Linked DNA regions of Homo sapiens: all the other regions are linked to region 1. Evidence: fine-mapped expression QTL. A gene starts in region 1. Each other region holds a variant in brackets. All regions are shown on one strand. Distances are between the middles of the regions. Region 1 holds the start of GNG12 (G protein subunit gamma 12). Region 2 overlaps GNG12-AS1 (GNG12, DIRAS3 and WLS antisense RNA 1). Region 3 overlaps GNG12 (G protein subunit gamma 12).

Evidence for each region. PIP is the estimated chance that this variant, and not a neighbour inherited with it, causes the effect. A credible set is the group of variants that fine-mapping cannot tell apart.
Region 2: its variant is the best candidate, but not a certain one, in a credible set for the expression of GNG12 in lung (TOPMed, PIP 0.56).
Region 3: its variant is the best candidate, but not a certain one, in a credible set for the expression of GNG12 in fibroblasts (GTEx, PIP 0.87).

The regions. Positions count from the first base shown.
Region 1 is chr1:67,832,074-67,834,833 of GRCh38, forward strand. GNG12 (G protein subunit gamma 12) reads right to left here and starts at 1,394. Exons shown (of 4, transcript NM_018841.6): 1 at 1,271-1,394. GNG12-AS1 (GNG12, DIRAS3 and WLS antisense RNA 1) reads left to right here and starts at 215. Exons shown (of 10, transcript NR_040077.1): 1 at 215-363.
Region 2 is chr1:67,852,631-67,855,390 of GRCh38, forward strand. All of the region lies in intron 1 of GNG12-AS1 (GNG12, DIRAS3 and WLS antisense RNA 1), which reads left to right. Among named protein-coding and RNA genes, the nearest start is that of GNG12, 21 kb to the left of the region's middle. The variant A/G (reference allele first, on the strand shown) is at 1,599.
Region 3 is chr1:67,790,879-67,793,638 of GRCh38, forward strand. All of the region lies in intron 1 of GNG12 (G protein subunit gamma 12), which reads right to left. Among named protein-coding and RNA genes, the nearest start is that of GNG12-AS1, 40 kb to the right of the region's middle. RefSeq lists a silencer at 2,748-2,760. The variant C/T (reference allele first, on the strand shown) is at 1,333.

The sequences.
Region 1 (2,760 bases):
GGCGAAGCTACAACCGCCCCAGGAAATATAAACTGTGTCGGCAAAGACAGCAGGGGGGAGAGGAAGTAACTGATGGGAAGGAAGCTAATCATGTGAAGTTTGTCCAACTCCACACGGTCTAATAAATTCCCGTTTGTTTCCGCTGGGAGCAGCCATTAAACGCGCCCTGACACGTGGGCGCAGGAACCTCCCTTCTACCTCTGGTGTTCAGAGATTTCCTTCTCGACCCACTTGTTTGTATACAACCACGCCCGGCAGGATGACCACCAGATGACCGGCCGCAGCAATGCCTCCACTCAGTCCCAGTTGGGCAAAGTTTCACTCCACTGCGGCGACGTGAACAAGAATCACGGCTTCCTTATCGTGAGTTATGAATGATTTAAGCCAAGTTTACAGGACACACAAAGCGAGGGACGAGTGAGTGACGGGAGGTGCTAAGTGACAGCGTTTTAAAGTTAGCTTTAATTGATATGCCCTAATTAAAATGAAAAACAGAATTCACCCTGCCCCACGGGATAACTGTCGGGGCAATAATTAAAAAAAAAAAAATCACCCAAGACTAAGCCTCAACCTCCCCCTTACCACTTGCAAATACAGTCTGCAGAAAAGCAGCCTCGGGTCCCCACTCGGGGGTCCCTCGCGGGGTGCGTCATATGGGCTCTCCCCTCTGCGACCCGCTATTTCCCTGCTAGACCCCCAGCGCCCAGCGGATTCCAAGGCTGCGCTCCCGCCGGCTGGTCCCGGGAGGTAGAAAGTAGGCAGAGGGGCGTGGCGTCCCTGTCGCCCCCACATGCCAGCCCTCCTCCAACGCCTGACACCACCACAAGCCACGGCTGGGAACACTGGGGGCCTCCCAACCCGGCGCGGGGCGCACGGCCGCAGGCTGGCGAGGAGGCAAGCGAGCTCAAGGGGAGACCTTTCCTTCCACCCCCAGCCCTAGCCCCAGCCACAGCCGTGGGGGCGGCTTCCCGCAACCTCGGGCGGCCGCCCGTCGAGGGCGCGCGCGCCGTTTCTGCCTCTGGGTCTCGGTGTCCCTTGGCCCCTTCCTCCCCCTCCCCCCGGTCTCCGGCGCCCAGCGCCCAGACCAGTCCCCGCCCTCCAGCAGGACACTCTTCCCTCCTTCCTTCCTTCCTCCGCTCCCTCCCTCCATCTCGCTTCCCAGCACCCGGGACTCGGAGGCGGCCCCCGAACTCGCTGGCCGACGCCCCGCGCCGCGCCCCGACCCCGCGGGGACCCGACTCACCACCCGCGCCCGCCGCTTGGTACTCACCCGCCTGCCGGTGCGCTGCCCCGCCGTCGCCGCCGGGACTCGGTCTCTAAGGGCTCCTGGAGACGGCTCCGACCTCTCCTCCTCCTCCTCCTCTTGCTCCTCCGGGCGCCGGCTCCGCCTCGCTGGGGTGGGCGGGGCGGCGGCGGCCCCGGGCTCCTTCCTCCGCGCCGGGCCCTGCCTCCCGCCCGGACGCCCTGGCTGTGCTGTCCCGGGCCGGGGAGCCCGCGTTGTGGCCCCGCAGGAGGAGGGGCGAGGCCTGGCCTGTGGAAGCTCGGTGGACGTCTGGTCGTCTTTGGCCATCCCCCTTCCTCTAATTCTCATGGAGGACCTGAAGTTCTAGGACTTGAGGGCCCCCACTCTACGACCCGCCCCCGCGCGGGGCCGCCCTGACTCCTCGCAAGTTTCCTTCGCGTGCGAACGCCTCGCTTGCCCCTGTGCCAGCGGTCCCCAGGGCTGTGAGGATGAGCGCTGCCAAACCCCTACACGAAAGTTTGGTTCTGTTCCAGAAACTATGGAGGAAAACACGCATAGTAACATTTAAAGGGCCCTGGGGCCACGGAGAGAAGTTTCCCAGAAAGTGGAGGTATAACTGCGGATTATAGAATTTGTAGTACATCCACCCACCATGAGCTTCCCGTCCATCTGCCCCGACCCCCTGAAATTTGTTTCCGAATGTCCAGTACCTGGCAGAGTTCTGCCTAATGAATTAATGGGATTTGGTTGGTCTTTTCTGGAAGGGTTCAAGGTCGGGTAAATGGAGGAGCCATTTCCGCTTCCACAGATTTTGTACTATTCCTTTGGCCATTCGACAGACATTACCAAGCACCCGCTGTGTACCAACTGCGATGCTAAAGGTGATGGGAGAGGTACAAAGATGAATCAGACAAGGGGCTTGCCTTCTTGGAGTCCAGAAAGAGTAAAGAAGCTGGATGTTCAGAAAACCACTCAGCGGACTTCTAGAGTATTCCTAGGTAGCCGCTTTCTTGTTTGACAGGGTGGAGAGAAAAGAGGTGAGGCCAAAGTAGGTCACTTAGAACCAGTGTGGGCAGAGTCCACACTTGAAATGGAGTCTGAAAGCATTGGTGAGGGATGTCTGTGTATTGAGTTTCACCAACTGAGGACAAGTGGGCCCTGGGGAATCTGGGAACTAGGGACTGCAGTCAGGGCATTATATTCCCTCTTGCTTTCCTTCTGACCCCTAAGCAAGTTTCAGGTTTAGTGAAATCATTTGCACATGTAGAAGAGGTGTCACAGGTAGAGTAGGTGTATGAATGCATGCCTTGCCCCAGGAGTGTGGTCTTAGCAAGCTGCGGATGGCGGTGGTTTGTGGGATGCAAGCCACAGACTGCCAGAGGGGTCTTTATTTCCTGTTCTGTTCAGCATTAGGAAATGCTTGACTGATTCACAAGTACTAACAGTTCAAATGATACACCTGAAACAGAACAGCTTGACACCACAGGGACTGAGAGGGTGGCATACTGGAGTTTGTA
Region 2 (2,760 bases), 21 kb after region 1:
CTAGATATCTAAGCATCACTCAAGGCATTGTGTTGAAGTTAGAATATAGAGGGCAAGGGTAGAAGCAGGGAGATCAATTAGGAGGCTATGACACTAGTCCGGGAGAGATGAGGATGGCTTGGATCAGCGGGACAGTGGTGGAGGTGTGAGAGGTGATTATATCTCGAGCCAACAGGGATTGCTAGTGGATTAGCTGAGAGAGGTGAGAGAAAGACAGGAGCGAAAGATAACACCAAGGTTTCTGGAAGGATGGAGTTGCTGTTTCCTGAATGAGAAGACTATGGGTCAGGCAGGTTTGGCAGAGGTAAGTGGAGGAAGAGATTTAGACATAAGTTTGAACTTTAAGTTAGACATCTCCATGGAGATGTTGAGACTTCAGTTGGATACACGAGTCTGGGGTTCAGTGTAGGGGTTCTGGCTGGATAAATAAAGTTGGCCATCTTCAGTATGCCGATATTTAAAACCTTGAGATTGGAGGCACTCACCAAGGGAGCAAGTACAGATAAAGTGGGAGTCTGAGGCCTGAGCCCTGGGGCCCTCCAGGACTTAAGGGTGGGGAAATGAAGGCAGGATGCATCAAAGAGAAGGAACAACTGGCGAAGGAGGAGAAACCATGAGGACATGATTTCCCCAGAGCTGCATGAAGAGAGTGTTTCACAGAGAGGGAGTGATCAACTGTGTCAAAAGCTGTTGATGTTTTATGTAAAATGAGGACTGAAAATGAGCAACTGGATTTAGCCAAGTAGCCCCAGTTATTCTATCCCGTAGCAGTCTTTTCTTCATTGACAGTATCTGGATTTTTCCCTCCCTCCCTCCCTCTCTCTTTTCTTCCTTCCCTTCCCTTCCCTTCCCTTCCTTCTCTCTTTCTCTCTTTATCTCTCTTTTTGTTTCTCATTTGCCTCTTTCACTGGATAGTAACAGTAACCCCTATAAGAACGGGGACCATGACTGTTGGGGGTATAGTGGCTGGCACATATTAGGAGTATGTTATGCAATTTATCTCTTTTGGTTTCTGTTTTGACCACATATTGTCCATTTCCCTTTCTCACCTTCCTAATGTTCCAAATCACTTTGGGGAATTTCCTCTCTTCTGTTGTGTGTGGTCTTGATGGGATGGCAAATTCTGTGTTTGCCTCCTACTGTGGAAGCCAAAGCAAGCAGATGCTGCCCCAGACCCCTACACCAGGGGGCAGGCTGCGTCCATCAGAGGCTCCTGAGTTATCCATGGACAAGAGAATGAGTTGAATCCCAGCATCTCTGTCCTCACCAGAGAGCCCTCCTGGTGAGAGCTGTTGCCATGGTTTCCATTTCCCAGGCCTTGGTGCTCCCCTGCTTCCTGCCATCACCAAGCCTGCTGCTCCAGCCCCTGTTTCTCTGAGCTCCCAGTATCCTTCCAGTAAATCCTCTTTCGCTTATGTTAACCAGAGCCAGTTACTATTCCTTTCAACTTAAAAAGTTCCCAACACCTAAGCACTCAATACACAATACTCAATACACATTTGCTGAATGAATGAAAAAGTATGGTTTTCATTTCATGAATGGCGAGTCTGAAGTTCAGAGAGGCTTACCACATGTCTAAGACCACATACCTTCCATCA[A/G]TTCTTCTATGCTCCCTTTTCACATTCTCAGATCTCTGAAATCAGGATGCTTTTTACAATTGGCAGTGTCTTACAATCAAGTGGAAGTATTTTTCTGTTTTTAGTGGTATATAAAATAATGTATCTTATATTAGCTTAGATTCAATGAAATATGGTAGTCAGTATTGAAGTCAAAATTGAAACATATTTCAAAAGTCTGTACATCTTCGCTTTTCAAGGAGTTTATTATCTAGTTGGAGAAAAAAATAAGTAGGAAAACTCCACAAATCTTTCTCAAATACAGAGTAGGGTTTCATGAACACTGAGTGGAGGCCCTCACTAAAGCTGCAGGGGTACATGACTCTGAAGGGCTGAGTGGAGGAGCCACAGCGTGGGCATTTATGTTGATCTCAGCAAGAAAGATTTGGATGGATGGAAATATGAGAAGAATGGAGAGGAGGGAGGACTAGGTTCTAGACGATGGCAACCCTGCCGACTCTTAAATGCAGGTCTGAGCCACAAGGCTGAGTTTGGTGGAGATGGTTGCTTGGTGTCTCCCCTCTGACTCTTTCCCTTCTCCTTCTCCATGGTAAATTATTCTTCCAATTCTCCCTGTGTTCACCATTATAACTGTTTTCTGCTGCAATCTTTTTCTGGAAAGTTCCCCCCTTCCTACCTCCTGCCCATTCCTCCCAATCAGTTCAGCTCTTGTGTGTGCTGGACAGAAATCCCTCTTGGCAGCCTAGGCAACATAGCAAGACCCCCAACTCTATATATTTTTTTAAATTAGCCAGCATGATAATGCACACCTATAGTCTTATCTACTCTGGAGGCTGAGGTGGGAGGATCACTTGAGCCCAGAAGTTAAAGGCTGCAGTGAGCTATGATGGCACCACTGCATTCTAGCCTGGGTGACGGAGCAAGACCCTGTCTCAAAACAAGCAAACAAATAAAAAAGAAATTACTCTGGGATCCAGAAATAAGGGAAAATGTATTTCAGGGGGAGGAACAGCAATAAGCATGGAGGTGCAATGCATGATGTATGTGAGGAAGAGTGCCTGAATACCATGAAAGGGTAGGCTGGGAAGAGGGGTTTACTCATTCATTCAGGGAATGTTTGAGTATACACCAGGTACTGCTCTAGGCACTGGGGATAGAGTAGTGAAATAAAAATTATGTTTCT
Region 3 (2,760 bases), 41 kb before region 1:
GCTGGGATTACAGGTGTGAGGCACCATGCCCAGCCCATACTTTATTCCTATATGTATTTGTTTTCCTTCCCACAAGGATTATTTCTTTACTTGAAGCGCCCTAGATTTTTCATAAATGAAAAACACACTCTGGATGTACTTATTTATATCTAATTTTCTAAAACTGAAATGTTCATAGTGGCTCAGGGGAAGGGTAACACAAGAGTTAATTCTGAAATTCAGTTCTATTTATCTTATTTGTCAAAGCCAGCTTTTACTCCTGTGAACATGTATCTCCTAATTCCAGGAACAATTGTGGATATGATGATGTAAATACAGTTTTTCTTAATCTTTTAAAATTCACACTCATTTCTGATAACCTTATGTTCCCTAATCAGATTCTGATATACCCATCCTTAGGTGTCTTAGCAAACTGTGATATGTATTTTCAGTCTCCTTTGCTGAATTCTCTCCTCTTCCTCAAATCTGATGACTCTCAAATCTCTATCTCCAGTCTCAGCTTGCTCTTTGAACGTCAGACTTACTTGTCTGACTGATTTCTTAACATCTCCCCTAGGATGCTTAGTAAGGCATCACAAACAATTGTGCCTTGGCCACAATCATCTCCCACACTGCTCTCCCTTCTTGGGGCTCCCAGGGGACATCAATGGTACCAGTAGGACTCCATCATTCATGCCCTTGTTCAAGTCAAAATCTTCATTCATTTTTGGCTCCTTTCTCACCAACTGCATATCCCATCAATCAGCAAATCCTGTCAGCCCTACCTTCAAAATACCTCCAGAATCCAATCATGCGTTGGCATCTCCTCTGCTCCCATCTGGGCAAACTAGCAGCATCTCTCGCCTGGATGACTTAAAGAGTTCCCTCTGCTGATCTGGGCTTCACACTTGCTTCCCTCCTCAACCCCCCATCTAGTTTCCATCAGTCATTATTCCCTAGCTCAAAACTCTCCAACAGATTCTCAGCATACTTAACACACTTACTCACGTCCACTCCTTGGCCCATCAGCAGCTATGAGAACTGGCCTTGGCTCACTCTATCCAGCCACACTAACCCCTCTTCTCCTTAAATCTGCCAAGCAATGCTCTGTCTTGGGGCCTTGACACAGGTTCTTCCTTCTGCTTAAACTTCTCACAGACACTGCAGGCCTGCACATCTCACTGCCTCACTTCTTTCAGGTCTCTGGGTCAAGCGTTATCTCCTCAGAAAGGCCCTACTCTCTCTTCCCAGACTCTGCTTTGCTTTTCTTCTTGGTACGTACCCCTTCCCCCTTCCTGGCACTCTATTTTCTATCTATTGAATTATTCCCTCTCCTTCACTGGAATGTCAATG[C/T]CGTAAGAAAAGGATGTTGTTTGTTTACCGTTGCACTCCCAGTGCCTGAGGCAATGCCTGACACAGGCTAGGCATTCAAGAAAAAATACACATTTTTTGGTTACTGAATGAATGCATATTCTCAACTGGCCAGAAATATTTTATTGAACTTGATTTTTCTGATGTTCGTATTATAAAAATAAACATTTCCTCTTTCCCCAAGTGAATCATAAGATAAGGCATGATTTTTAAACTACGTATGCCTTACCCCCTAGATTCTGGTATCTGCCCATTGGGGTGTTTTGATATATAAAACCTCATGGCTACATTCTGAATTTTTACTAAGCATCTGGCATGTTCTGTAGTCTTTTGCCTCTAACTAAAGCCTCAAGGCTTTATTACCTTTAAAAAATGCTTGCAGAATTAAGCTAATAAAGACATTGTCTGCCTTATTTGTGGTAGTGGCAGTTTTTCTCCCCTCCAGTTGTATCTGAATAAGGCTGGCTCAGATTTCAATGCCAAGTAGTTTGCCACACAACTTTTGTTGTATGGTTCCATGCAGTTTGGGCCTAGCAGCCACAGAAAACACTGTGGAATATTAAGACAACTCCTTGGAAGAGACTAGAAGGGAGTTCAGGCCCCTTCTGCCAGGAGTCTCCAATATATTTGGGTTTTCTGGCTGCCTGGCCAGTATTGGTGCTTTTCAGAAGAGCAGTGTTTCCTTCATGAATGAAACCCATTTATCATGACACACTCAGTGGACAGAGTTAGCTCCCAGGGGACAGTCGTTCTCCCAGCCTCTGACATTTTCCCAGTGTGACAGTGAATACCACCCCACAGAGACCAATGTCACTCTGTGAATTCCACCTTGGACTCTTAGCAAACCTCAGCTTCAGAGAGTTCAGTCAACTGGAAATTGTCTCCTGTGTCTTTTCTCCTTTTCTTGAAGCATAATCTTTCTGGATCTTTTATATATAAGACTTTGGAATCATTGTGTAAAAATAGGATATTCTTAATCCTGACTCATTTGAGAAATAAGTCAGACTCAGCTTAGTTCAAAGATCTGGTCAAATTCTAACATTAGTGATAACATAAATAGAAAACACAGATGGGTATCAGTTCTGCCCTTTTACCTCTTTAATAAATAAAATGCAATAAATCATCTGCAAGTCTTGGTGAACTTTGATTTCCATGTATTTCTTTAAAGCTTAAAAATTTTGATCTTTGTGATGTGAAATCCTATTCAATTGTTTGGGAATTTAACTTGTTAGGTGGTTTGTCCAAAAGAAGAAAACGGTAGATATCAAATACTAAGTATTTGGTCATTCAAGTCAAGCACTTTGATTTTTTTTTTTTTTAAACTACAAATCTGGCCTCCTAGAATGTTGTGCTTGTGCAGTTTAACTCTGGACTTAATTCCACTGCAGTCTGCATCCCTCTCGGGCTGTG